Homo sapiens: one gene and its partners. The protein of the gene in region 2 interacts with the protein of the main gene of each other region in a biochemical or structural test. Each region holds a gene or a part of one and is shown on either strand. Other genes may lie near its edges. The genes, in order: EPS15, SPART and PLIN3.

What was found.
Region 1: the proteins of SPART (region 2) and EPS15 form a complex in vitro, tested with the Homo sapiens proteins (one study listed by BioGRID).
Region 3: the proteins of SPART (region 2) and PLIN3 form a complex in vitro, tested with the Homo sapiens proteins (one study listed by BioGRID).

What each region holds. Positions count from the first base shown.
Region 1 is NC_000001.11:51,402,585-51,413,011, forward strand, and holds part of EPS15 (epidermal growth factor receptor substrate 15), read right to left. Parts: intron 7,113-10,427; coding exon 6,951-7,112; intron 5,749-6,950; coding exon 5,551-5,748; intron 3,525-5,550; coding exon 3,321-3,524; intron 949-3,320; coding exon 835-948; intron 1-834. UniProt on the Homo sapiens protein: Involved in cell growth regulation. May be involved in the regulation of mitogenic signals and control of cell proliferation. Involved in the internalization of ligand-inducible receptors of the receptor tyrosine kinase (RTK) type, in particular EGFR.
Region 2 is NC_000013.11:36,334,282-36,344,708, reverse strand, and holds part of SPART (spartin), read left to right. Parts: intron 1-8,350; exon of another isoform or gene 8,351-8,422; intron 8,423-8,876; 5' UTR 8,877-8,878; coding exon 8,879-9,688; intron 9,689-10,427. UniProt on the Homo sapiens protein: Lipophagy receptor that plays an important role in lipid droplet (LD) turnover in motor neurons.
Region 3 is NC_000019.10:4,836,798-4,846,051, forward strand, and holds the end of PLIN3 (perilipin-3), read right to left. Parts: intron 7,997-9,254; coding exon 7,871-7,996; intron 2,740-7,870; coding exon 2,395-2,739; 3' UTR 1,544-2,394; downstream 1-1,543. UniProt on the Homo sapiens protein: Structural component of lipid droplets, which is required for the formation and maintenance of lipid storage droplets. Required for the transport of mannose 6-phosphate receptors (MPR) from endosomes to the trans-Golgi network.

The DNA of each region.
Region 1 (10,427 bases), on a different chromosome or scaffold from region 2:
TTTAAAATAAAATAACACACATTCAGGTCATACACATGCTTTGAAAAATCAACTGATGGGCCAGGCACGGTGGCTCACACCTGTAATCCCAGCACTTTGGGAGGCTGACGTGGGCAGATCACAAGGTCAAGAGATAGAGACCATCCTGGCCAAAATGGTGAAACCCCGTCTCTACCAAAAACACAAAAATTAGCTGGGCATGTGCAGCTACTCAGGAGGCTGAGGCAGGAGAATTGCTTGAACCTGGGAGGTGGAGGTTGCAGTGAGCCAAGATCACACTACTGCACTCAAGGCTGGGTGACAGAGTGAGACTTGGTCTTGAAAACAAAAGGAAAATCAACTGATGGTAATGTAACAAATATCTCTCTAGTCATAAAGCACCTTTAACACATTTTTCTCTTTCCTTCACCTTAACATATTTTTCTCTTTCCTTCACCTAAAATAGTGTATAATTCATCTGAGGAAAACAGTGATAAGGACATTTTTTTAAAATATCATTTAATTTTTAGAGATTAGGTCCCTCTATGTTGCCTAGTGCCTCCAACTCAGGCTCAAGCAATCCACCTACTTCACCTCCTGAGTAGCTGGGACTACAGGCACTTGCCACCACATCCAGCTATTAAGAACATTTATTTATTTTATATGTATAAATTCAAGGGGCACAAGTGGAATTTTGTTACATGGCTATATTGCCTAAAGGTGAAGTCGGGGCTTTTGATGTATCTATCATCTGAATAATGTATATTGTACCCATTAAGTAATGTCTGATAATTCACCTCCTCCTGTCCTTCCACCCTTACAAGTCCCCAATGTAAATATAAAATCATTTTTTACCTCTTTTGAATGTCTATTATTGTCGAGTTCAGAACAAACTTTTTCAGTAACAGCTGTAGTCACCTCATTTTCATCAGTCACACCAGAAGGCAGTAGTTCAGGACTACTTCTTGCCTACAAAATATTAATGCAAGTAGATTAACAATATACTTTTTGACATGGCAGAGAAAACTGACTAAAGATAACCAAAAACTATTTAAAAATAAAAAAAGACAAGCAGAATGTATTCATCAAATAACTTCTCCTTCTATAATCTTTTTTAGGGAAATGGTGTCATCAAGCATCAAAGTCACTCATGTCAGAAACCTTCAGGTCATCTTTAATCCTCAGAATATGACTCCAAGTCTTGCTCAGTCTACCTCTTACCTCTTTTTCAAATCCTTGCCTTCTTCTCCATCCTCACTGTCACTATCAATCACTTATAGTACTATCATCTTTGGTTCCAATTACTATAGCAGTCTTCCTTCCAACTGCTTTCCTGCCTCCAATACATGTATTTCCAATCTCTTCTCCTTATTGTAGCCAAACTAATAGCTCTAAAATGTGGATGTGATCGTGACCCTTCTGGTTAAAAGTCCTTCAATGGCTTCCCATTGTCTTCTTCATTTAGACGAGTGGGTGAAAGACTTAAGAAGTAGTAGGGGCAGGCCGGATGCAGTGGCTCACACCTGTAATCCCAGCACTTTGGGAGGCCGAGGCAGGCAGATCACAAGGTCAGGAGATCGAGACCTTCCTGGCTAACACGGTGAAACCCCGTCTCTACTAAAAATGCAAAAAATTAGCCAGGTGTGGTGGCACACGCCTGTAGTCCCAGCTACTCGGGAGGCTGAGGCAGGAGAATAGCTTAAACCCGGGAGGCTGAGGCAGGAGAATAGCTTGAACCCAGGAGGCAGAGGTTGCAGTGAGCTGAGATTGCGCCACTGCACTCCAGCCTGGGCAACAGAGCGAGACTCCGTCTCAAAAAAAAAAAAAAAAGTAGCAGGGCAATAGCTACTTTATACCACCCTTATCTATTTGCAGGATAACCTAGTAATCTGCCTTTTGCGCTTGAAAGAATATTTTATAATGCATACATGACTGCACTGTGTAAATAAAATCGAGTCTGTTAACTTTTCACTTTTAATACCTCTCAAACTTCTATTCTTCTCATTATCCCTTCTACGGGTACAGTCTCACTCTCTAATCCGTTTTCCACATTTCTAAAAGTTAATCACGTCACTTCTTGCTTAAAATTCTTCAATGGCTGTTCATTGCAGTAGGATAAATCCCCCAATGCTTTAAGATGAATCTAAATTTCTCATCTTCTGGCACTTTCTGACCTAAAATTGGTCATTTTTATCCAGGTGCACATGACAATCACCCATAGAGTGTGTTTTTAAAATATACATATCTGGCTCTATCCCAGAAACTAGTTCAGCAAGTTTGGGGAAAGGGATACACATTTATACTTTGACAATCACCAGAGGTAATGCAGATGCCTACTAGAAGCGCCTCATCTCTTACCAATACCCTCTCCACCATCACAAGATATCCTTCAGAACTTCTCAAGATTCTGTGCTGCATGTATTCTTCCACCTTGTACCTATACTAATACTGTTTTCTCTGGCAGGAATGTATCCTCCTCTTCTTTGCTTAACCACTTCTCACTTGTCTAAACTCGCAAAGCTTTCCCCAACAAAATCTTTATGAACCCCCTCCAAACTGTCCTAACTGAAAATTCTGCGCTTCCTTTAGCACAGCCCTTTAACACAGTGTTACACTACTACACTGTAGGCTGCTTGAAGGAAAGACTGAGGTCTCTTGTCTCTGTAGCTCTTATATTATGTAATACAGCACTCTTGCACATAGTTGGTACTCGTCAAATAATTGGTAAATGAATGTCCTTAACACTACGTAATAAAAATAATTTTAGCTTTTGGTGAGGGTACTTAAAAAAAAAGTTTTACTCTATAGAACCACCATTTTAAAAACAGGCTCTACAAAAAATAAATTAGCTGGCTGGGCGTGGTGGCTCACGCCTGTAATCCCTGCACTTTGGGAGGCCGAGGCAGATGGGTCACTTGAGGTCAGGAGTTCGAAACCAGCCTGGCCAACATGATGAAACCCCATCTCTACTAAAAATACAAAAAATTAGCTGAGTGTGGTGGCACGTGACTGTAATCCCAGCTACTCAGGAGGCTGAGGCAGGAGAATTGCTTGAACCCAGGAGACGGAGGTTGCAGTAAGCCAAGATCGCACCACTGCACTCCAGCCTGGGCAACAAGAGCAAAACTCCATCTCCAAAAAAAAAAAAATTAGCTAAAGTTATCTTTTTATACTAGTTAAAACGTACAATTGTTTGGATTAGGACTCTCTGCTTCTAAAAAGGAAATCTCAATTGTCCTCAGATGAGGCAAGGCCATGTATTTATATTAGATATAATGTCAGTGAAACTTGGATCTGCACAAGGAGGTTGATTATGAAGGTTATGAAAGTATTAGACTCACTGGAGATTCCTGGTGTATGGGCTCAGACTCTAGGTTGCTCTGGCCTTCAACATGTTCATTAAGGTTGGCTGTTTCACTGCTGCTGGTGCTGAGGCTGCAATAATCTGTAGCTCCGTTTACAAGAATGCTGTGTGGGCTACTGCACCAATTTAACTGACTATTATGATTTTCCAAATCTTTCATTTCCATCAGTTTCATTTGCATCTGCCAACACAAAGAAGAAATATAGAACAGAATTTATTACTAGAAAGACATGTAACATAAAAACGCCCTCCTCCACTTCCTGACGGGCTAGGTGTGGTAGCTCATGCCTATAATCTCAACACTTTGGGAAACTGAGGCAGGAGGACTGCTTCAGCCCAGGAGTTCAAGACCAGCCTGAGCAACACGGTGAAACCTCATTTCTACAAGAAATATAAAAATTAGCTGGGCATGATGGAGTGCACCTGTAGTCCCAGCTACTCAGAAGGCTGAGATGGGAGGATCACTTGAGCCCAGAGGTCAAGGCTGCAGTGAGCCATGATCACACCACTGCACTCGAGTGACAGAATGAGACCCTGTCTCAAAAAAATAAATAAAATAAAAATGGCTATACCTGTAGACTTGGTCTAGGATACATTTGCTTCCTTTAAGAAGAATCCTCTGGGAATGCTACGTGACTTAGAGAAAAGATTCAGTAATTTCTGACAATAAGTATTTCTCTCTTGAAATTTTAGTATACATGGATTTTTTTTTTAAAGAGATTCAAAAAAAGAAAATACTTTAAAGAATACCCATTCATCTGGTAGCATTCTCACTACAACAACTCTTTCAGGTTACCTGTTTATTGAGTACCTACACTGGGACAAGAACTGTGCTAAATGATACGGATTTTTAAAAATGTGTAAGTTCCCAGACCAAAACCATGACTCTGCTAGGGGAGACAGACATATAAGCAAATATGCAGGGAAAAATCTTATTATTGCTGTAACATAAATACAAAGTCCAACAAAAGCAGGATGCAGAAAATACCATAAAGAAATAAGAATTTAAGGTATATCTTGCATGACGAATGAGTAGGTAGGTACTCAGCTGCCAGATAACAGGGGGTAAGGAAGCGCAAAAGTGAAGGACTTCATTATATGTAATAACTGAGCACACTGGACTGGGTTTTAGAAGAACTGGATTTTAGATGTAGCTCTTTTCAAGGATATGTAACCTTGAGAAAGTTACTTGAACTTCCTTGGCTTTAGTTTGTTCAAATTCATAATGAAAGAAATCAACTCCATGATCTCTGTGTTTCTATCCTTTTTTTTTTAGTTTTTATTTTTTGAGACAGATTCTCACTCTGTTGCCCAGGGTGGAGTGCAGTGGTGTGATCTGAGCTCACTGCAACCTCTGCCTCCCAGGCTCAAGTGATTCTCGTGCCTCAGCCTCCCAAGTAGCTGGAATTACAGGCAGGTACCACCATGCCCAGTTAATTTTTGTACCTTTTAGTAGAAACAGAGTTTGGCCATGTTGGCAGGGCTGGTCTCGAACTCCCGGCCTCAAGTGATCCATTGCCTCAGCCTCCCAAAGTGCTGGGATTACAGGCATGGGCCACCACCATGCCGAGCCCTAACTATCTTATCATTCATTAAAACATTAGTCTTCATGTAGGGAAACCTGGAAATAAAGCAAAGGATCTATACATAAGACCAACTATAACACTGCAAATTTATCTACAGAAGGAACAATTTCCTTAAGAAAAAAGTTTCCAAATTAGCAAATGTGAATTCAAAATTAGAATCACAAAACAGAAGAAACTAGGTTATTGTTTATAAAACAGGCAACACTTATGGAGCATTTATGTACCAAGCACCATGCTAAAATGTCTTACAGGTTTTGCCTCATTAATCCTCACAGTGGCCCTAAGGGGTAGGGTATTTATTAATCCTCCAATTTTGAAGATGAAGAATCTGATACTAAGGTGATTTAGCTAGTAAGTGGCACACCAGTACTTAAACCTAGACCATCTAGCCACAAAGCCCACACTCTTAATCACTACTCCAATGATAATCATCAGATAGATATACAAGATGTATGATAGTTTCAATATATAACAGGTGACAAAAAAACCTATTGTATAAAATGACTGAAAAATGAACAGTAAACTAGGCAAGAGGTTGAAGGAGCAGAAGTTGGAAAGTATAACTGACTAAAGGACACAGAGGATCCATTTGAATATATTTCTTGCTTTACAAAGACTTACTGAACTAATTTCCTGTTGTGAATCTTGTAGGTGCTGCTGAAGAGGTTCCAACTGAGCCTTCCCTGACTCTACACTCTCCTCCAATTCTGCTGTTTCTTGCTGTAGACGGCTCAGCTCTTCTCTAGCTTTTGCCAATTCTTCTTCGTAAGTGGAGATCTGCGATTCCTGACTAGTTAATTCAGCTTTCAGAGAAGAGATCTATAATGTGAAAGTGAATGAGAAGAAATGGGGATTAAAAGAAGAGATGTCATTAAAATGTTCCAAAATGCAATACATTTATTTGTTTAGTTTACTATTTTGGTGTTTTTTTTGACAGCAATAGCAAATAATTTATTTAATTTAATTTTTGAGAGAGAGAGTCTTGCTATGTTGCCCAGGCTGGATTCAAACTCCTGGGCTCAAGTGATCCTCCTGAGTAGCTGGGACTATAGGAACATGCCCAGCCATACCTAGCCCTATTATGGAGTTTTTGATGTTGTTGTTGTTGTTGATGTTTTATTTTTTTGAGACAGTCTCACTCTGTCACCCAGGCTGGAGTGCAATGGCACGATCACAGCTCACTTCAGACTTCAGGCTCAACTTTCCCAGGCTCAGGTGATCCTCTCACCTCAGCCTCTCGAGTAGGTGGGATTACAGATGTGGGCCACCACGCCTGGCTTTCAATTTTTTTTTTTTTTTTTTTTGAGACAGAGTCTCGCTCTGTTGCCCAGGCTGGAGTGCAGTGGCGTGATCTCAGCTCACTGCAAGCTCCGCCTCCTGGGTTCACACCATTCTCCTGGCTCAGCCTGCCGAGTAGCTGGGACTACAGGCACCCGCCACCGCCCTGGCTAATTTTTTGTATTTTTAGTAGAGACGGGGTTTCACCGTGGTCTCGATCTCCTGACTTCGTGATCCGCCTGCCTCGGCCTCCCAAAGTGCTGGGATTAAAGGCGTGAGCCACTGCACCCAACCAGCTTTCATATTTTTTGTAGAGATGGGATTTCTCCATGTTTCCCAGGCTGGTCTCCAACTCCTGGGCTCCAGCAATTCCCCCCGCCTCAGACTCCCAAAGTGTTGGGATTACAGGTGTGAGCCACTGTGCCCAGCCAATTATGATGTTTTTTGATGTATGGTTTTCGTAAAGAAGGGTAACTGGGGGAGGGACAGAGGAGAGTTGAAGGTATAGGCACCATATTTCCAACAAAAATTTGGAAAAACAGTTCATTAACTGCCCTTCTATTTCCTCTAAAGAAGGCCTGTAATTTCTGGATGAACCTTGCTCCATCGCCCCCATGAACCCAAATGCTGACTGGATTGCCAACCACCACCATCAATAACAAAAAGTAGAGAATGTTTTCATCTTAAGCCAGGAAAAGCAACTAATGTATAGGTGCAGGCAGCAGGAAACAGCCAGACATTACCAGTTGGGCCTCCTCAGCACATTTCTTTCTGACTTCCTTGAGTTGCTCCTCCAGCTGGGCTTTCTGCTCATCCAGTTCATCAAGGAGTTCCTGTACCTGCTGTTTCTGGGCCTGTAGTTTTTGCAGATTAGTATTCTCCCTTTGAACTTCATCTTGAAGATCCTAAAATCCAAGAAAATTAATATATTTATTTTCTTTGCGGGCAGGGGAGGGTTAAGTTAGTAATTTTAAATCTACCTTAAGAAAGAATAAAGTCTTACTGAGTATACTGTGTTGATGAGACTAGGGTACTTAACAGCTTTAAATACAATCTTTACTTGAAGACATCTTTCCTAGAATCCATATTTAGATATTCAATTTGCTAACTCAAATCTGTCCTTGGACATGTGATGGGCTTTGCTAACATGTTGAAAATAGAACTCCTGGAATTTCCCCACAAATCTGTTTTAAGCTCAATCTTTCCCCTCTCAGATTCTCTGGTCAAAAAAAAACCCCACATGGAGAAACCCTGTCTCTAACAAAAATGCAAAAAAAAAAAAAAAAATTTAGCTGGGCGTGGTGGCGCATGCCTGTAATCCCAGCTACTCGGGAGGCTAAAGCAGGAGAATTGCTTGAACCCAGGAGGTGGAGGTTGCAGCGAGCCGAGATCATGCATTGCACTCCAGCCTGGGCAACAAGAGTGAAACTCCATCTCAAAAAAAAAAAAATTAGCTGGACGTGGTAGTACGTGCCTGTGGTCCCAGTTACTTGGGAGGCTGAGATGGGAGGATCTCTTGAGCCCAGGAGGTCAAGGCTGCAGTGAGCTGTGATCATGCCACAGCATGCCCAGACTGGGCAACAGAGTGAGACACTGTCTCCAAAAAAAAAAAAAAGAAAAATTAATTCCAGGTAAATAATGGACCTGAATGTAAAAGTCTAACTTTAAAATGTGTAGAAGAAATGCAGATCTCAGTGTAGGAAAAGATTTCTTAAAACAAAAAAAGAACCATTTTGAAAATGTTATTTATTCATCCATGTACATACCAGACCTCATGCTTAATAACAAGAACTACAGAAATTTTTAAAAAGCCAGGCGCAGTGGCTCAGGGATTAATAACTCCGAAGTATCTGTCAGCAGGAGGTAGGCAAAGATTTCAAAGCGGGTGAGGTAAAACTGAACACAAATTTCTAAAAATAATATCTATTCAAAGGTCCCAACAGTCATTCACCAGAATAAGAATCTAAGAACAGAAGAGAAACTTACAGGTAAAAGGTCTCTGAATTACTGCATAGGTTACACAAGATAGCACCATTATGATAATAGCCAACACTTTAAATGCTACTTAAAATGTGCTAGGTTGTGCTCTAGGCTCTTTAAATATACTAACTTATTTATAGTCTATATGACAGATCTACGAGTTAGGTACTGATATCATTTCATATTTTACAGATGAGAAAACTGAAGTACTGATGTGTAGGTAATGTGTCCAAAGTTAAAAATAGTAAGCTATGGATTCAAAGTGGGTTCTGACTCCACAGCCTGAGCTCTTAACCACCATGTGACATACCATCTGCAGACTAAATGTCTCACATGTGTCACTATTTTTCAAATATATGCAGATGTTTCTGTGATTAAATAGAACACTGAACAATGCTTTCAATAATTGCTTTTTATCTTATATTTTCTTAACCAACTGGTTAGTCTAAAAATATCATGTTGCTTTCTTTAAAAAATTCCTTTAAAGCCCAGGCAGAGCAGGCAGACAAAAAGGGAAACTCAAAGGCAGTAGCCTTTGAATTCCTCAATGATACTTGAGGAATTCGGACAATGTTTGATGAGTATCATCAACTCTGCAAAGAAAGGCAAAAAGTGACCCTTGTGCCATGAATTGCTAACTCTTGCACAAAGGACTGATAAATGGAACTGTACAGAGAATTTAAGATACAGGGACACTTGATTTCTGGAAGAAAAACAATTTCTGTATTTTAATTCAGTCCTTATTTTAAGAGACTTGAAATTATAATATTGAAGGAGAAGAAATTTTAAATGAGGAAATAAGTACATTTTAAATCTTAGTTAAATATGCTTATGCCCCTTCTAAATTGAATTTTTCTTTATTGTATTATATAGAGTTTTGCTTTGCCTAGGTTTCTTAAGAATCAGATGTTCTCTCATTAACCCGTCAGGAAACAACAGAAGCTGGAGAGGATGTGGAGAAACAGGAACGCTTTTACACTGTTAGTGGGAGTGTAAATTAGTTCAACCATTGTGGAAGACAGTCTGGCGATTCCTCAAGGATCTAGAACCAGAAATACCATTTGACCCAGCAATCCCATTACTGGGTATATACCCAAAGGATTATAAATCATTCCACTATAAAGACACATGCACACGTATGTTTATTGCAGCACTATTCACAATAGCAAAGACTTGGAACCAATGCAAATGCCCACCAACGATAGACTAGATAAAGAAAATGTGGCACATACATCCCATGGAATACTATGCAGCCATAAAAAAGAATGAGCTCATGTCCTTTGCAGGGACATGGATGAAGCTGGAAACCATCATTCTCAGCAAACTACCACAGGAACAGAAAACCAAACACCACATGTTCTCACTCATAAGTGGGAGCTGAACAATGAGAACGCATGGACACAAGGGAGGGGAACATCACACACCGGGGCCTGTCGGGAGGTGGGGGACAAGGGGAGGCAGAGCATTAGGACAAATACCTAATACATGCAGAGCTTAAAACCTAGATGATGGGTTGATGGGTGCAGCCAACCACCATGGCACATGTATACCTATGTAACAAACCTGTACGTTCCACACATGTATCCCAGAACTTAAAGTATAATAATAATAAAAAAGAATTAGATGTTCTCTTTCTGATTCCTTTGACAAAAATGTTTATCAATTATTTACTATAATTTATTTTAAAAATTCCTTTAAAAATGCCAACACAATAGATGATCATGAAAGACTTTCCAGTGCTAACATTCCGTGAGTTTGTGTGATCACAGTTTCAAACTGGTGAACTCCTTTAGTACTTTATCATTAATTTACCAGCATGCCTAATTTTTTTCATGTCTAAATTTTTAACCTTGCCTACACTGTTAACTAATCCATACCATATAGAGATACGACTTTAGATATGCACATGGCATTGGCTCTGAATAAACCCATGCCAAAAGAGAAAAATGACTTCAATTTCTGTATCACCCAGTCTAGTAACTTCAGATTCATCTTTGATTTTCTCCATTCATACATGTCCTATAGATTCTACCTTAAAATCTCTCTTTAAGCTGTTTACCAAATTATTTTAGCTTTCATCGTTCCTTCCTTGACATACAACTGGGTTTTCTCCCTTTGTTTCTTCCTATTCCAAATGTCCAACTTGCTTAAAAAATAACTCACTGCAAAGGATATTTCTCTAGTCACTGTTATTTTTAAAATATGTGTTGTTCCCTCTTATCTAGAGGATTAAGTAAAAC
Region 2 (10,427 bases):
ATTGTGCTTAGGAATAGAATAGGCTTTTTTTTAAGTCACCATCCTCCAATCCTTATTTCTGTAAAATGTATTTTCTGAGACCGCTGAGGATATAGCAAATCCCAGTCACAAAATAAAAATGTGATATTTTAATATAAACCTTTTTCTTTCTGTGTTGAGATTCCCCAGAGATTAGACTGAAATTGACCATTAGACTTATATATAACCTCTAGATACCCAGGCTCTTCTCTCGTGTATCCTTTTTTTCTCTTTAAGATGGAGATGTAGCAAGGAAGGTTATTAAGCAATCCTGTGGAATTAGCCCTCCCACTCCACCCCTACACACAGGCACACTCTTCTTTCTCAGTAGCCATCTTGTTCCCTCCATTGACACATTATTAGGAAATCTTTCATCACACCGTATGTAAAATAAGCTTAGAAATAAACGTATACCCAAGGTAAATATTGCTTCTAGCTATATTCCTTCATTATGCCTCGCTTCTACTTTCAAATGCTACCTATTGAAGATTTAAGCCACATGACTTTCTACGACGGGACACTCTGGGTTTTCTTCACCCCTCCCTCACTCTGCTGACTTGTAAACATAGTAGGACTTTTAGATTTGGAATCAAACACATCTCATCTAATTTTCATTTTCATTTTTCTTTTCTTTCTTTCTTTTTTTTTTTTTTTTAAAGAGACAAGGTCTTGCTCTGTCACCCAGGCTGGTTGGAGTGCAGTGGTGCAGTCATAGCTCACTGCAACCTTGAACTTCTGGGCCCAAGCGATCCTCCGGCCTCAGCCTGTGCAGTAGCTGGGATTACAGGCGAGAGCTCATTTAATTTTCTTGACAGATAATCTTCTGATCCATGAACTGATTTGAATGTATCATTTACTAGCTCTCTTCTTGGGCAAGCTGCTCAATATTTGTAAAACATTTTTAAAATCAGATATCAACCTCCAAGAGTGAGGATTGGATAACCTTAGAAGGGTGCCAGACACATATAGAGAGCTTAACAAAAGATAGTAAATTTTGGTGCTTCTGAGGGCCAGAGACAGACCATGTCCATTATATCTTTGCTATATATTATAGTTGTGAGTGATTTTTAAAGCAGTACTTTTAATTTGCTTGTGAACCCCCAAATAATTTTTGTAAAACTGTCCCTCTTGCACACTTTTGGTTAACTTACAGCATTTTACATCATGCGTTAGTTGAAAAGAATGCAGTTTCCCACATGGTATTGATATTAACATTTTAATATTGGTACATCATTCTTTCACCTGTATTCAGTGGGGTATCATATCTTTGTAGTTTTATATCCATCACCATCAATTTTTAAAATACATTATATTTTACACACTTCCTTTTTTAAAAAATTTTACTTTTTTATCACCCCCACCCCACAGAATATTATCTTAAGGTAATGCATTTTTATGCTTGAAAGCTTTTTATTAATCTCTGTGATACATGGCTTTAATAACAATAGTTATATAAATTGAAGCTAAGTTTAAAAATTTCCTATAACTAATTCTGTAAGTTGTAATTTTTCTTTTGGGTTGAGTTATTATAAATAGTTGATTAGAATAGCTTAAAAACTTGATGGATTTTAATGAATAATAATTATTAAGAGTAGAAGTTTACTGGAAATCTGTGTCCTAATGGAATGGATAGTGGGAGTTGTGCCTAAATTAAAGGAGGGTCTTTGAGCCCTTCGACTTATTGTTTGTTGGTAGGGAGGCTTTTCCATCCTGGGGCAGTGTACCATAGTAAGAATAGGAGTGGGTGAGAAGTATGCCTTTATTTTGTAAAGTGGAAGATTGTGAAAGGATCTTGGGGAATAAAAATCAGCATGATAACTGGACAATGGGCATATTCTCAGGCAGATCAGTTTAGTGAGAAGTACTCATGGGAGTAAAGGATCTGGAAGCCTTTTTCTTAAAATTACACATGTCGTTGGTGTATGTCCCATGGAAGACTTCATTTGTCCTGGGGGGCACACATCCCCCAGTTTGAAGACCATTTAGAGTGGTAATTCTCAGTGGGGGACGATTTTGCTGCCCAAAGTACATTTGGCAATGTCTGGAGACGTTTTTGGTTGTCACAACCGGGATGAGGGGTGGTGCTGCTATGGGCATCCAGTGGACAGAGATCAGGGATGCTGCTAACAAAGCATTATCCAACCCAAAATGTCAACCATGCCAAGACTGAGAAACCCTGATTTAGAGGATTTGTTTTGGAATCAGACTATTTAATTCTGTAAACTAGTGCAGGGTCAGTAAACTTTTTTTGTTAAGTGCCAGATAGTAAATATTTTAGGCTTTTGGGGCCATGTATGATCTCTGTTGCACATTCTTCTTTGTTTTTATAACCTTTAAAAAATGTAAAAGTAATTCTTAATTCCAGGGTCTTTCAGAAAACAGGTGATCTAAGGCAATTAATGCTTGCAAACTTCAATTTTCTTCTCTGCAAAGTAGTACTAATAGTAATATTGCATCAAGAATTGTTTGTAAGGATTGAGATAAACACCTAGCATACTGTCCAGCATATGTTAAGTACTCTAAATGATGCGTGGGGATAGTGGTGTCCTATCGTATGTAGCACAAAAGTGGGTGCCAAGTCACAGTGTTGTTCAAGACCCTGTTCAAGTCATTTGGACAAATTTAATGATGCTGGTGAAGCTCCCAATCAACTCACAGATGCCTATTTAACCTCTGCTGTCTTTCTGCTGCCTTAGTCTGGGCCTCCTTGTATCCTGAGGAAGATAAAATACAAAATGCCTGTCTTGTGGTTTCTTTGGAAAGATGTGGCAATCTTATGACACAACAGGATAGTATTCCAGGAGAAGAGATTGTTAATATTGATAGGGGTTGTGGGGTAGAGCAAATACGTGGGTCTGTATATGGTCAATTGTATATGGTATTTTCTAAATTGGGTACTGAATATATTCTGTTGACTACCATGAAGTTGTTGCATAATAAGGCTGACTAGTGGCACTTCAGGTTAGAAAGTATAGTTATATTATTAATCGGAAGCTAGACCAATTTTAATGAATGCTTTCTGTGATGCTTCTGTGCTTTCATAGTGTAGATTGCTGCTAAAATAGTTTCATATCAGTGAAATTCTTCTATCGTAAGTTTTCATGAGATCACAGGAAAAGAATTGCCACATCTAATGACAGTAGCCACTAGGTACATGTGGATATTGAGCACTTGCAATGGGGTTAGTTGGAATTGAACTATCTTTTCAGTGTAAAACACATACTGAGTTTTGAAGACTTCATACCAAAAAAAAGAAAGCTAAAATATTTAACTGAAAGTTTTTATATTAACTGCATATTGAAATAATATTTTTGATATATTTGGATAAATAAGATACTATCATTGAAATTAACTTCACCTGTTTTTTACCTTTTTAATGTTATTAGAAAAGTATAAATTACATATGTGGCTTGCATTACAGTTCTGTTTGACATAGTTGCTCTAAAGCTTCCATTTACTTTTTTAATAGTAATTAAATTTTCTATCATACACATAGATTTAAGAAAAATCTTACCCCTTCCTCCCAAAGTCAGCTTGTATCATTTTTCTTACCCAATTCTTTTGGTCTTTTTTGTACTCTAAACAGTGCGAATATATTGGCACTTTTTCAGTTTTAGGCACTGTCCATTAACTTCTCAGTGAGAAAGATGAAGTTTTATCTCTTTCATCCTTTGTCGCATGCACATAAACTTTTTATCCATCCATCTTCCCATCTTTCAATATGGTTGTACCATAATTTTGTTTATATTGAGATTCATTGTGTATATTATGACACCAATCAAAACTGAAACATTTAGTACATTATGATTACTTTTTATTTCTTGCTCAACATCATTTTCCCTAGAGTTAATCCTTAGTTTTTAATTATTACTAATGGAACCCTGAATACTCTCACAGTTGTGTAGATCTTTTTTCAGAGCTTACAATCACATTAGGTATTCTATCAGTTTTACTTTCTTAAAAAATTCTTTTCTGTTGTCTCCTACTCCACCCTGGAGTGTTTGCCTAATTGTTATCTTGGAAACTCATCATCAGTCTTGGGATTCCTTTCATCAAACATGGTACCCAGCAAACAGAAGATGTAATAACTGAGCAATCACTTGGCTGGGTTTAGAAGCTATTTTTACTCAGAATTATGAATTAAATGTATAATTTCCTTCTTCTATTGTTGCCTTTAAGAAGTTCCTTAGCACTCTTACTTCTCTCTCTTTTTTTGTGTGTAAGTATTTTAAAGATGATCCTTTTGAGCTTAGTGTTCTAAAATGTCATGGTATGTTTCTTGGTGTGAAATCTTTTTTTCTTATTTATTTATTTATTTTTATTTTTTTGAAACAGAGTCTTGCTCTGTCGCCCAGGCTGGAGTGCAGTGGTGTGATCTCGGCTCACTGCAAGGTCCGCCTCCCGGGTTCAAGCAATTCTCCTGTCTCAGCCTCCTGAGTAGCTGGGACTACAGGCGCCTGCCACCACGCCTGGCTAATATTTTTGTATTTTTAGTAGAGACAGGGTTTCACCTTGTTAGCCAGGGTGGTCTCGATCTCCTGACCTTGTGATCTGCCCACCTCAGCCTCCCCTTTTTTTCTTATTTTTTGCCCATTGGTTTTTTTATTTACTTTTATTTGTTAGAGATGGGGTCTTGCTCTTTCAACCCAGGCTGGAGTACAGTGGTGTGATCATAGCTCACTGCAGCCTTGAATTCCTGCACTCAAGTGATTCTCCTGCCTCACTTCCTGAGTAGCTGGAACTACAGGCACGCGCCAGCATGTCTGGCTAATTTTTTGATGTTTTCTTTGTAGAGCTGGTCTCACTATGTTGCCCAGGCTGATCTCAAACTCCTGGACTCAAGCGATCCTCCTGTCTCAGTCTCCTAAAGTGCTGGGATTACAGGTGTCAGCCACTGTGCCCAACCTGTTGGTCTTTTTAAATTAGGAAATTCATGTTTTCCAATTCTAGGAAATTCTATGAATTATTTCTTTAATTCTTTCATCCCTTATTTTTTCTCTGTTCTCTATTTCTAGGAGGTTTTTTGTTTGTTGGTTGGTTTTTTTTTTTTTTTTTTTTTTTTTGATGGAGTCGTGCTCTGTGAACAGGCTGGAGTGCAGTGGCATGATCTCGGCTCAGTGCAACCTCTGCCTTCCGGGTTCAAGCAATTCTCCTGTCTCAGCTTCCTGAGTAGCTGGGGTACAGGTGCATGCCATGATGCCCTGGAAATTTTTTTGTATTTTTAGACGGGGTTTCACCATATTGGTCAGGCTGGTCTCGAGCTCCTGACCTCAGGTGATCTGCCCGCCTCAGCCTCACATATTTCTAGAAGTTTTATTATTCAAATGATATGCCTTATAGACTGGGTCCTAATTTTCTTATTTATTATTGCCTATTTTTCATCTCTGTCTTTTTGCTCTGCTTTCTGGGCATTTTCTATAATTGTATGACCTCATCCTTCTTGAGTTTTTCCTTCCTGCGTTTTAAATATTTAATTTCCCGGAGTTCCTTTTGTCACTCGAATATCCTTCTTTCAGTATGCACGCATCCCACTTTTTATTTTATGGATGCGATATTTTCTTTTTCTTTATGTTGATATAAATGATAGGGTTTTTTTTTTTACGTTTCCTGCACATTGTCCATTTCAACCAAATTACATTGCTCTTCTTTTAATCCTTTATACTGGATGTTTGCCTCATGTTTTGTGATCCTGGGCTGTGTGTGTGTCTGTGTGTGAGTGTGTGCGTGTGAGTGAAGCACTAGAAAGCTGATCTGAGATTCTATGGGTGGAACCTATCAACTATGGCTTCTGAACGGTGAATTGCTTGGACAGTTTTCCTTAGGGAACTCTCACTGTCACTATTCTTTGTGTCTTTCTTCTTGGTGATGATCAGATTCCTCAAGAAGATAACTTCCAATCTCCTTTCTTGAGGGGTACCTGGCAGCCAAAACTCTAATTACCAAGTTGTGGGGAAGAAGGCTGTGGGTCTCAATAATCAATGTGTAACATTTCACTTAATCCCCCTGCTTTTGGTTTTTACCCTTAATCATGCCTGATAGTTTCTTATCCTCACTTTATTTTACACTCTTCTAGATCAAAGCACTCAGTCTTTCAGGGCTGTAGAGAAACAGCGTCCTGATTGCTTGGTGTAGGAAAGATCTGAGGGTGCTAATTTGTAAATAGGCTTTCAACCAGTCCTCTTTTTTCAGCTCTTTGTCTACTTCCTTTCCATAGGAAGATTGAATTCCATCAATTCTTATGCCTTTGGAGGTTCTTGATGTGACGTAAGTGCAGCTGCGTCTCTGATTTTCCCACTGACAGTTTAAAGCATCTGTTTTCTCAAGTGTGTTTTGGGAGTTTTCACTTGTCTGCCTCCTTTTTTGACACCAAGTACTGTTGACTTTTCATCTTCCCTATTTGTCCTTGTGAGTTATGGCTTTATTATTTATCTGTTTTATTGAGGAATCACATAAAATGCATATAGTACCCTGATCTTAAATGTATAGTTTAATGATTTTTATGTATATATACAGTAGTCCCCCCTAACCCCTTATCCAAGGGAGATAAGTTGCAAGACCCCTAGTGGATGCCTGAAACCATGGATAGTGTGGCACCCAATTGCTTTCAATTGGAACATGTTTCTGTTCATATCTCAGCCTTTTCCATCTTAACTAAACACTTGTCACATGCTTTGACCATAAGTTTTGCAGTTTGAGGGACAACAGCAAAACTGGCACTAATTTCTTTTTCCTTCTTCACAATTTCAGGAATAGAAAATATGTTATTAATGGTAGATCTTAGCAACCTCAGCATATGATTTTTTTTCTTGTTAAGTTGAAAACTTTAACCTTTTCACTTGAAGGAAGCACTTCACAGCTTTTCAGTGTATCAAAATTGCCAGCATCACTACTGTTGCACTTTGGGGCCATTATTAAGTAAAAAGAATTAGTTGAATCCAACCACCACAATATCGGAACAGTTGATCTGATAACCAAGATGGCTACTGTATTAGTCCGTTTTCACACTGCTGTAAAGAACTGCCCAAGACTGGGTACTTTATAAAGAAAAGAGGTTTAATTGACTCAGTTCTGCGTGGCTGGGGAGGCCTCAGGAAACTTACAGTCATGGCGGAAGATGAAGGGGAAGCAAAGACCTTCTTCACATGATGGCAGGAAAGAGAGAGCTAGCAAAAGCTGGAAAAACTGCCTTATAAAACCATCAGATGTTGTGAGAACTCACTATCAGGAGAACAGCATGGGGCAAACTGCCCCCATGATCCAGTCATCTCCCACGGGGTCCCTCTCTTGACACCTGGGGATTATGGGTATTACAGTTCAAGGTGAGATCTGGGTGGGGACATCGCCAAACCATATCAGCTACTAAGTGATCATGGGAGGGGAGCATAGACAGCATGGATGCCCTGGACAAAAGGATGATTCATGCCCCAGGGGGCACAGAGAGAGACAAGAGGAGATTTAATCATGATACTGAGAATGTGCAATTTAAAATTTATGAATTATTTATCTCTGTAATTTTCCATTTAATATTAATATTTTCAGATCATAGTTGACTGCAGGTAACTGAAACCACAGAAAATGAAACTATACATAAGTGGGGACCACTGTACACCCTTGTAGTCATCACTCAGATCAACAAGAGAACATTTCCAAAGGCCATGAGATTCCCTCCTGTACCTGTGAAGTCTGTAGCCTCTACCTATAAGCACTATTTTGATTTATGTCATATCATAGACCAGTTTTTCCCATTTAATTCATTCATGTAGAATCATAGTATGTGGTCTCAATATGAAGTCTTTTGTATTTGGCTTTTCCTCAAAGAATTGGTGAGATTCATTGATGTTGCAGGCAATCAGGTTTAAAATTTTTTTTCTGTGTATTATTGCATTGTATGAATGAGTGAGCATTTGGGTTGTTTTAAGGATTTGCTTTTTGTGAATATAGTTGCTGTGAATATTGCCATACATGTTTTTGGCATGCACATGCATCCATTTCTCTTGGTTATATACCTGCAAGTGGAATTGTTGGGTCATTGAGTGGGTGTTTAGCTTTAGTAGAAACTGCCGGTTTTCCAAAATGTTGTATCATTTTTCAGCTTTCACCAGCAAGGTAGAAGAGTTCCACTTGTCTTCACTTAGCACTAATCAGTCTTTTAAATTTTAGCCATCTGTTAAGTGCCTAGTTGGTATCACTCGATTTTAGTTTCACTTTTCTGAGGGAATAGTATGTTGAACACCTTTTCAGATGCTTTTTAAAGATTTTCTTCTGTGAAGTGCCTATTCATGTATTTTTCTCACTAAGAAAAATGGTTGTTCCTTTTTCATAATCTTTCCAGAGTCATCTTAGTGGGATTTGGGGAAGCAACAGGGCTGTGTGGGGTAACCTGCCACCTTTAAGTGGAAATCAGGTAACAAAGTTTCATTCACTTTTTTTTTCTCATTTCTGTTTTCCCCAGTCTATGATTCAATTCATTTTTTATTGGCTGGATATAATCTGGATTTATATTATAATGAATTTTAGAATGAGACTCTTGTTTCAACCATAAGGATGTATGATAGGAAACTATTATAAGAAACCAGAACAAGAAAATTATTTAATAGATGTATTCTGATTTATTCTCTTATGTTTTTAAATTAAGATATTTTGGACCAAGAGTTTTCATTTATTTATCCATTCATCAAATACATGTTAAGTGCTTTCTTTATGACAGACCTAATAGTAGGCTTAAAGGATAGTATAATAGTGAACAAAACAGAGATAAGCGAGGCACTTGTCCTCTTAAAATATATTCAGGTAGGAGATACGAATCATAAGTAAACAATAGCTAAGCAAGATAATTAAATATGTCTCCAATTTTGCAGAAATGGAGCAAGAGCCACAAAATGGAGAACCTGCTGAAATTAAGATCATCAGAGAAGCATATAAGAAGGCCTTTTTATTTGTTAACAAAGGTCTGAATACAGATGAATTAGGTCAGAAGGAAGAAGCAAAGAACTACTATAAGCAAGGAATAGGACACCTGCTCAGAGGGATCAGCATTTCATCAAAAGAGTCTGAACACACAGGTCCTGGGTGGGAATCTGCTAGACAGATGCAACAGAAAATGAAAGAAACTCTACAGAATGTACGCACCAGGCTGGAAATTCTAGAGAAGGGTCTTGCCACTTCTCTGCAGAATGATCTTCAGGAGGTGCCCAAGTTATATCCAGAATTTCCACCTAAAGACATGTGTGAAAAATTACCAGAGCCTCAGTCTTTTAGTTCAGCTCCTCAGCATGCTGAAGTAAATGGAAACACCTCAACTCCAAGTGCAGGGGCAGTTGCTGCACCTGCTTCTCTGTCTTTACCATCACAAAGTTGTCCAGCAGAAGCTCCTCCTGCTTATACTCCTCAAGCTGCTGAAGGTCACTACACTGTATCCTATGGAACAGATTCTGGGGAGTTTTCATCAGTTGGAGAGGAGTTTTATAGGAATCATTCTCAGCCACCGCCTCTTGAGACCTTAGGGCTGGATGCAGATGAATTGATTTTGATACCAAATGGAGTACAGATTTTTTTTGTAAATCCTGCAGGGGAGGTTAGTGCACCTTCGTATCCTGGGTACCTTCGAATTGTGAGGTTTTTGGATAATTCTCTCGATACGGTTCTAAACCGTCCTCCCGGGTTTCTTCAGGTAAGCGAAAGAAAAATGAAAGCATAATTTGAAATACGTGTAGACTACATCATTTTTATTTGTTAATGTTTATGTGTCCAGTATAAGTGCAAAAAGATAACGACAAATTCTACTTTGTTTTTAAATATATTCCATGAAATTATGAGCCTTGAACATGTTTGTGTTTGTCTTTTTCTTTTTTTAAAAAAGATATATTAATAGTTTTATTTTGGTATTAAGTTTGTGATGATAAAACTTGAGAAGAGTGGTCATCCTTACATTTTTAATTCTTTATCTGAAGAAGAAATCTAATAAGTTTAATTTCGAAAGGGATTTATGTAATTCCTGTGGATGTATAGCTGTAAATATTCACAAATGTTGTCAAGACTCAGCTGAGGGTCTGAACTGGGAGAGACCGAGCCCATGGTCCAGAACAGTTGTTCTCAACCCAGGGTAGTTTTGCCTCCCCAGAGAACATTTGACAATGTCTGGAGGCATTTTTGGTTGTCATACTGGAAGTTGATTGCTACTGGCATAGTGGATAGAGGCCACGGATGCTGCCACACATTTTCACAGGACAGCCCTCATGAACAAAAAAAAATTATCCTGCCCAAAATCTCAACTATGCCAAGGTTGAGAGACCTTGGTTTAGAAGTCGAGACTGTGGTGATAATTTAAGATGTAATTCCAACAGTCCAAGCAGAGAAATTTACCAGAATGCACTTGGTCTAAGAGTAAAGAGTGCTACATAAAGATTGAT
Region 3 (9,254 bases), on a different chromosome or scaffold from region 2:
GGTGCACGCCTGTAGTTCCCAGATACTCAAGAGGATGAGGTGGGGCCAGATGTGGTGGCTCACACCTGTAACCTCAGTACTTTGGGAGGCCGAGGTGGGCAGATCACTTGAGGTCAGGAGTTTGAGACCAGCCTGGCTAACATGGTGAAACCCCATCTCTACTAAAAATACAAAATTACATCCTGGCTAACACGGTGAAACCCTGTCTCTACTAAAAATACAAAAAATTAGCCGGTTGTAGTGGCAGGCACCTGTAGTCCCGGCTACTCGGGAGGCTGAGGCAGGAGAATGGCGTGAACCCAGGAGGTGGAGCTTGCGGTGAGCCGAGATCGTGCCACTGTACTCCAGCCTTAGCCGGGCGTGGTGGTGCACGCCTGTAATCCCAGCTACTCGGGAGGCTGAGGCGGGAAAACCACTCGAACCTGGGAGGTGGAGGTTGCGGTGAGCTGAGATAGTACCACTGCACCCCAGCCTGGGCAACAGAGTACAACTCTGTCTCAAAAAAGAGCGAAAAAAAAAAAAAAAAAGGCTGGCATAGTGGCTCACGCCTGTAATCCAGCACTTTGGGAGGCCGAGGCGGGCAGATCACTTGAGGTCAGGAGTTCAAAGCCAGCCTGGCCAATATGGCAAAACCCCGTCTCTAGTAAAATTCAAAAATTAGCCGGGCATGGTGGGGCACGCACCAGTAATCCCTGTGGCTGTTGGTTATAGGGAGTGGATTCCTATGTAACATTCATTGAACTGTCCCTTTAAGATTCATATACTTGGGTGCATATGAATTCAACTTGAATATGGATTAACAAAGAGAAAGTAACATGTGGTTGGTGATGGGGGAAATGAACCCTCTCAGGACTTAGGGTGGGAGTGAAAAGACTGACAATGATTTGGGCAACAGTCCAGCAGTATTTAGTAAGACTGAGAATGTATCTTCTCCATGTCCCTGGGAGAAGTCCCTGAAGTTCCCCTTCTCTGTAGCTACCGTAGAGAAACACTGTAGATTGTCACTTGGATTTTTTTCCGAGATGGTATCTTGCTCTGTTGCCCAGGCTGGAGTGCAGTAGTGCGATCTTGGCTCACTGCAGTCTCAAACTCCTGGGCTCAAGTGACCCTCCCACCTTACCATGCCTGGCTAACTTAAAAAAAAAAAATTTGTGTAGAGATGGGGTCTTGCTATGTTGCCCAGGCCAGTCTCAAACTCCTGGCCTCAAGTGATCCTCCCACCTCGGCCTCCCAAAGTGCTGGGATTACAGGCGTGAGCCACTGTGCCAGGCCTGCCAGTGTCTTGATCTTGGACTTCCCCGCCTCCGGAACTGTGAGAAATCAATTTCTGTTGCTCATAAATTACCCAGCCTGGCCAGGCACTTTGGGAGGACGTGGTGAGAGGAACGCTTGAGCTCAGGAGTTCAAGATCAGCCTGGGCAACATAGCAAGACCCCGTCTCTACAAAATAAATAAATGAATAAATAAATTACCCTGCCTAAGATATTTCTGTTCTAGCAGCAGGGACAGATGAAGACACACACACGTACACACATGGCCTGTATGCAGTTGTGGGTGAAGTTTATTAAGGCAATACTGAATACCAGAGCATTTCAACAAGGCTTACCACACAGGCCCCAGTACCTTTCTACTCTACAATGAGGCTCAGAAGCTCAGTGTACCACCCCATCCCCAGGAGGCCCACTTAGACCAGAAATCCCAAGTCCATTAGCTACAGGCTGATATTCAGGGACATCGGTGTAAACAAAGAAGTGGGATATGAACTATATCCCTGATTTTTTTTTCTTTTTTTTTTTTTTTGAGACTAAGTCTCACTCTTGTCCCCCAGGCTGGAGTGCAATGGCGCGATCTTGGCTCACTGCAACCTCCGCCTCTCAGGTTCAAGAGATTCTCTTGCCTCAGCCTCCTAACTGGGATAACAGACACCTGCTACCATGCCCGGCTCATTTTTTTTTGTATTTTTAGTAGAGACGGGGTTTCACCATGTTGGCCTGGCTGGTCTCGAACACCTGACCTCAGGTGTTCCGCCCGCCTCAGCCTCCCAAAGTGCTGGGATTACAGGTGTGAGCCACCGCACCCGGCCTATATTCCTGATATTTAACAAGGAAAAAAAATTCTGCAGGGGAGAACTTTCCTGAAAGATATTTTTTCTGGACATCTCTCTCTACTGACTGATAGGGTGAGGCTCAGAACAGGCTTCTTCCAAGCTCAGAGAGGCTGAGAGATGGGTCAACTGGGTGATGCCCGTTTTGAGAGCCTTAGCTTCCCAAGTGGACAGCACAGAAGAGCTGGGAGGAGTGGCTAGAAAATAAGTTTGAAATGAGCCCCGGGTTGAGGACTCCAGAGCACAGCTGCATTATAGAGACGGGGCCCGCTGAGTCCTCTCCTCTCCCCCTACTTCTTCTCCTCCGGGGCTTTCTCAGTGATTCCAGGGGCAAAGGGTCCCACGAGCCACGTGACAGGTGTGTTCTGGGCCACATATTCCACCATGTGGTCCAGGGCCTCGCGGGCGCTGGCGACACGCTCACGGCTCTGGGCCAGAATGCTGCTGGACAGGTCCTGGAAGGAGTGGATGCTGGAAAACGTGGCCTGGAGGTCCTCCACCTGGCGGCGGGCCTGCTGCACCTGGTCCTTCACATTGGTGGGGAGGCCCTGAATGCTGGACCCCAGGGAGGTACAGGTGGCCTGCAGTTGCTGGGCAATGTCCCGGAACATGGTGAGCGCCCGGGACTCGACCTGCTGAGAAGGGAGATGGGGACACCAATCAGGACCATTTGTTTCAGGAAAGGCGATCGGAGCTGAAGCCAGGGAAAGAGGGGAAGAGGGGTTCTACCACTGACCTTGGGGCAAACGCTTTCCATAGGCGAAACTTTTTTTTTTTTTTTTGAGACGGAGTCTCGCCCTGTCGCCCAGGCTGGAGTGCAGTGGCACAATCTCAACTCACTGCAAGCTCCGCCTCTCAGGTTCGCGCCATTCTCCTGCCTCAGCCTCCCGAGTAGCTGGGACTACAGGCGCCCACCACCACGCCAGGCTAATTTTTTGTATTTTTAGTAGAGACGGGGTTTCACCGTGTTAGCCAGGATGGTCTTGATCTCCTGACCTCGTGATCCGCCTGCCTTGGCCTCCCAAAATGCTGGGATTACAAGCGTGAGCCACCGTGCCCGGCCCTTTTTTTTTTTTTTTTTTTTGAGATAGAGTCTTGCTCTGTTGCCCAGGTTGGCGTGCAGTGGCATGATTTTGGCTCACTGCAACCTCCGCCTCCCAGGTTCAAGCGATTCTCCTACCTCAGCCTCCCGAATAGCTAGGACTACAGGCGCGTGCCACCACGCCCGTCTAACTTTTGCATTTTTAGTACAGATGGGGTTTCACCATGTTGGCCAGGCTGGTCTTGAACTCTACCTCAAGTGATCGGCCCTCCTTGGCCTCCCAAAGTACTGAGATTACAGGCATGAACCACCGCGCCCAGACTCTTTTCTTTTAATTAGAAACAGGATCTCACTTTGTCGCCCAGGCTGGAGTGCAGTGGCGTGATCATAGCTTACTACAGCCTGTAACTCCTGAGCTCAAGTTATCCTCTCATTTCAGCCTGCCTGACTACAGGCACTCACTACCACGCCCAGCTACATTTTTAAAATTTTCTGTAGAGCCAGGATCTCACTAAGTTGCCCAGGTCTTAAACTCCTGGGCCCAAGTGACCTGCCCACTTCAGCCTCCCAAAATGCTGGAATTACAGGCACGAGCCACTGCATTTGGCCACTAGTCAAATTCTTTAAAGGGCATAGACAAATCACCAAAGAAGATATAGGGAGAGCACATGAAAAGCTGTTTGACCTTATAAGTCATTGAGGAAATGCAAATCAAAACCATAAGGAGGCCTGGCATGGTGGCTCATGCCTGTAATCCCAGCACTTTGGGAGGCCAAGGTGCGTGGATCACCGAGGTCAGGAGTTCAGCCTGACCAACATGGCGAAACCCGCATTTCTACTAAAGATACAAAATTAGCCGGGTGTGGTGGCATGTGCCTATAATCCCAGCTACACAGGAAGCTGAGGCAGAAGAACTGCTTGCACCCAGGAGGCGGAGGTTGCAGTGAGCCAAGATCATGCCATTGCACTCCAGCCTGGGCAACAGAGCGAGACTCTGTCTCAAAAACAAACAAACAAACAAAAACCCCAGAGGCTATCAGATGATACCCACTGTCAGTCAAGAGGCGGAGAAATTGGAAGCCTCGTGTATTGCTGGTGGTATAGTTACTTTGGAAAACAGTCTAGCGGTTACTCAAAATGTTAAACCATAGAATCATCATATGACTCGGCAATTCTAGTTGTGGGTGTGTGCACAAGAGAAACGGAAACATACGTCCACACACAAAGACATGCACACAGGGGCACAGCAAAAAGTAGAAACGACTCAAGTGTCCTTCGGTTGATAAATGGGTGAACAGAATGTGATCCACCCATACAACAGAATGTGACTCAGCCATGGAACGTCATGGGGCTCTGACCCAGGCCACAGCATGGGTGAGCCCTAAGGACGTCACGCTCAGCGCGAGAAGCCGGACACAAAAGGCCAAACAGGGTGTGATCCCATTTCTATGAAATGTCCAGGACAGGCCCATCCAGAGACAGGAGGGGATACGTGGTTGGGAGGAGGAGGAAATGGGGCAGTGACTGCTGATGGGAAAAGGGTTTCTTTTTAGGGGCATGAGATGAGATAGGGATAGTTGCACAATGCTGAGAACCAGCGATGTGTATGCTTTAAATGCGTGACTTGTATGGTATGCAAATGAGATCTCAATAAAACTGTTAAAAAAAAAAAAAAGGCTGGGTGCGGTGGCTCACCCCTGTAATCCCCAGCACTTTGGGAGGCCGAGGAGGGTGGATCATGAGGTCAGGACGATCGGGACCATCCTGGCTAACATGGTGAAACCCCATCTCTACTAAAAAAACACAAAAAAATTAGCTGGGCATGGTGGCGGGAGCCTGTAGTCCTAGTTACTTAGGAGGCTGAGGCAGGAGAATGGCGTGAATCCGGGAGGCGGAGCTTGCAGTGAGCCGAAATCGCGTCACTGCACTCCAGCCTGGGCGACAGAGCGAGACTCCATCTCAAAAAAAAAAAAAAAAAAAAAAGAAAAAAAAAAGCTGTTAAAAAACAAAAAGTGGAAGCCAGGCTGGGACAGCCTGGAAGAACTTTCTAGGCAGAAGTTGTAAACCATCCGGGGAGAACATAGTTGAAATCAGGTCCTTGAAAATTTCCTTGGCCAGAGAGTGAGATGAGCACAGACAGGGTTCGAGACCAGCCTGGCCAACATGGTGAGACCCCATCTCTACTAAAAATACAAAAATTAGGCCGGGCGCAGTGGGTCAGGCCTGTAATCCCAGCACTTTGGGGGGCCAAGACGGGTGGATAACTTGAGGTTAGGAGTTCTAGACCAGCCTGGCAAACATGACAGAACCCTGTCTCTACTAAAAATACAAAAAAATTAGCTGGGTGTGGTTGCAGGCGCCTGTAATCCCAGCTACTTGGGAGACTGAGGCAGGAAAATTGCTTGAACCCAGGAGGTGGAGGCTGCAGTGAGTCAAGATCACGCCACTGCACTCCAGCTTGGGTGACGGAGTGAGACTCTGTCTCAAAAATAAATAAATAAATCAAATTAGCTGGGCGTGGTGGCAGGTGCCTGTAGTCTCAGCTACTCGGGAGGCTGAGGCAGGAGAATCGCTTGAACCCGGGAGGCAGAGGTTGCAGTGAGCCGAGATCATGACATTGCACTCCAGCCAGGGTGACAGAGTGAGACTCTATCTCAAAAAAAAAAAAAAAAAAAAAAAAGGCACACACTGGGAGGTAGGGTTTTGCCCAGAGCCCTGGCAGCTGGAGGACTCTGGACTTGAGCGAGGGATTACGGGAGAGTGCCCACGTGAGAGAGATAAGATCTGGTTTTTTCATTTGAAAAGTCATTCTGGCTGCTGTGCTTAGCAGTCGGGGAAACAGGAGACAGTTTTAGGCAGCAGGTGGTCTAGTTCTGCCTCCCGAACAATTTGCATTTATAGAGATATTCACCATATCTTTATGCATGTCACTTTTGTAGCCCTTACTATGTGCTTTTGATATGATCTCATTTCAGTTTTTAAAAAATCGATCTGGGTCCGGGCACGGTGGCTCACGCCTGTAATACCAGCACTTTGGGAGGCCGATGTGGGCGGATCACCTGCGGTCAGGAGTTTGAGACCAGCCTGGCCAACATGGCGAAACCCCGTGTCTACTAAAAAGTACAAAAATTAGCCGGGCGTGGTGACGCATGCCTGTAATCCCATCTACTGGGGAGGTGGAGACAGGAGAACCACTTGAACCCAGGAGGCAGAGGTTGCAGTGAGCTGAGATTGTGCCACTGCACTCCAGCCTGGGCAACAGAGCAATAAATAAATAAATAGGCAGGGTGCGGTGGCTCACGCCTGTAATCCCAGCACTTTGGGAGGCCGAGGCGGGCGGATCACAAGGTCAGCAGATCAAGACCATCCCGGGTAACACGGTGAAATCGCGTCTCTACTAAAAATACAAAAAAAATTAGCTGGGCCTGGTGGCGGGCGCCTGTAGTCCCAGATACTCGGGAGGCTGAGGCAGGAGAATGGCGTGAACCTGGGAGGCAGAGCTGGTAGTGAGCTGAGATTACACCACTGCACTCCAGCCTGGGTGACAGAGCGAGACTCCATCTCAAAAAATAAATAAATAAATAAATAAATAAATAATTGATCTGGGGTCGGGTGTGGTGGCTCATGCCTGTAATCCCAGTGCTTTGGAAGGCTGAAGTGGGAGTATTGCTTGACACCAGGAGCTCAAGACCAGCCTGGGCAACACAGTGAGATCCTGTCTCTACTAAAAATTAAAAAAAAAATTAGCCAGGCATCGTGGCACACGCCTGTGTTCCCAGCTACTTGGGAGGCTGAGGCGAGAGGATTGCCTGAGCCTGCAATGGCGAGGCCACAGTGACCTGTGATGGCATCACTGCACTCCAGCCAGGGCAACAGAGTGAGACCCTGTCTCAAAGATAAATAAACAACTATTTCAAAAATTGATATATAATCCACACACCCTAAAACTCGCCCTTTGAAGTGTACGATTCATTGGTTTTTAATACATTCACAAGGTTGGGCAAATACTACCTTCATCTAATTTCAGGACATTTTCTGTTTTTTGAGACAGAATCTCCTTCTGTTGCCCAGGCTGGAGTGCAGTGGTGCGATCTCGGCTCACTGCAAACTTCCTTTGCCCCTGGGGAGCTTAAGTGGGTGGTGGGACAGGCAGCGAGACCCATTAGAGAACACAAGAGGCCAAGGCTTGAGATAGAGTGGAGGGGGCCGGAGAATACTAGTCAGAAGTTGCTGCTAGGGGCCGGGCTCAGTAGCTCACGCTTGTAATCCCAACACTTTGGGAGGCTGGGCAGGGCGGATCACTTGAGGTCAGGAGTTCAAGACCAGCCTGGCCAACATGGTGAAACCCTGTCTCTACTAAAAATACAAAAAAATTAGCCAGGCGTGGTGGTGAGCGCCTGTAATCCCAGCTACTAGGGAGGCTGAGGCAGGAGAATCACTCGAACCCAGGAGGTGGAGGTTGCAGTGAGCCAAGATCATGCCATTGTACTCCAGCCTGGGTGACAGAGCAACACTCCATCTCAAAACAAAAAACAGAAGCCATACCTATGCATGCCCAAGAGGAGAAATCAAGGCAGGCTTCCTGAAGGAGGTGTCATTAGCTTCCAAAAGCAGGTGAGGCTAGGGAAATCATTCGAAGCAGGTAGGCCCATGAAGCAGAGGTGTAGAGAGTGGCATCGGGACTCCAAGTACCCTAGGCCACCCCCCAGTCCCCTCATGGGTACCTCTGGCTTGGGCGGCTCCTTCTCGGGGCCCTGGAGCTGCTTCTGGTTCCAGCTGAGCCACATCTGGTGCAGCTTCTCCTGGCCTTCCACCAGCTTCTGATCAACGCCTTGCTTGACAGTTTCCATCTGGGGCAGGGGAGAGAGAAGTGAGGGAAGGAGGCTCCCCTGGGAGAGACGGGATTCCAGAAGGAACCCAAGGAATCCTTCCAGCATCTGACTTACATGACAGTCTAGAAAAGAGAAAGGGAGGGAGGGAGGAAGGGTTTCCTGGCTACGGTGAGCTCTGGGGCCTTTGGTTTAATCATTGACATACTCAGGCTCTGTGTGGTTGGTGCAAAGAAGGGCTGCACATCCCCTGTAGCTCTTCCCATTGTGTCAATTTCTCCTGCGCTTGCAAGGGAGCCTGGACACGTGGCTGGCTTTGGCCAATGGGACATGAGCAGATGGAACCAGCAAAGGCTTAAAAAGTGCTTGTAGGCTGGGCATGGTGGCTCACACCTGTAATCCCAGCACTTTGGGAGGTTGAGGTGGGTGGATCACCTGAGTTCAGGAGTTCGAGACCAGCCTAACCAACATGGTGAAACCCCGTCTCTACTAAAAATACAAAAATTAGCCAGGTGTGGTGGTGCACATCTGTAGTCCCAGCTACTCAGGAGGCTGAGGCACGAGAATCGCTTGAACCTGGGAGGCGGAGGTTGCAGTGAGCTGAGATTGCGCCACTGCACTCCAGCCTGGGTGACAGAGCCAGACTCTATCTCAAAACAACAAAAAACAAAAAACAAAAAAAAGTGCTTGTAATGAAATATGACTCAGCCTTCCAAAGGAACGAAGCAGGCTGACTTCTGCAATCCCAGCGCTTTGGGAGGCCAAGGGGGTTGGATCAGTTGAGCTCAGTAGCTCCAGAACAGCATAGGCAACACAGTGACATCTCATCTCTACATATTACATAAAGTTTAAGAGAAAAGAAAAATAGTCGGCCGAGCGCAGTGGCTCACACCTGTAATCCCAGCACTTTGGGAGGCCGAGGCGGGTGGATCACGAGGTGAGGAGATCGAGACCATCCTGGCTAACACGGTGAAACCCCATCTCTACTAAAAATACAAAAAATTAGCCCAGCGTGGTGGTGGGCGCCTGTAGTCCCAGCTACTCGGGAGGCTGAGGCAAGAGAATGGTGTGAACCAAGGAGGCAGAGCTTGCAGTGAGCAGAGACTGCATGCCACTGCACTCCAGCCTGGGTGACAGAGCGAGACTCCGTCTCAAAAAAAAAAAAAAAAAGGCCGGGCGCGGTGGCTCACGCCTGTAATTCCAGCACTTTGGGAGGCCGAGGCGGGCGGATCAAGAGGTCAGGAGATCAAGACCATCCTGGCTAACACTGTGAAACCCC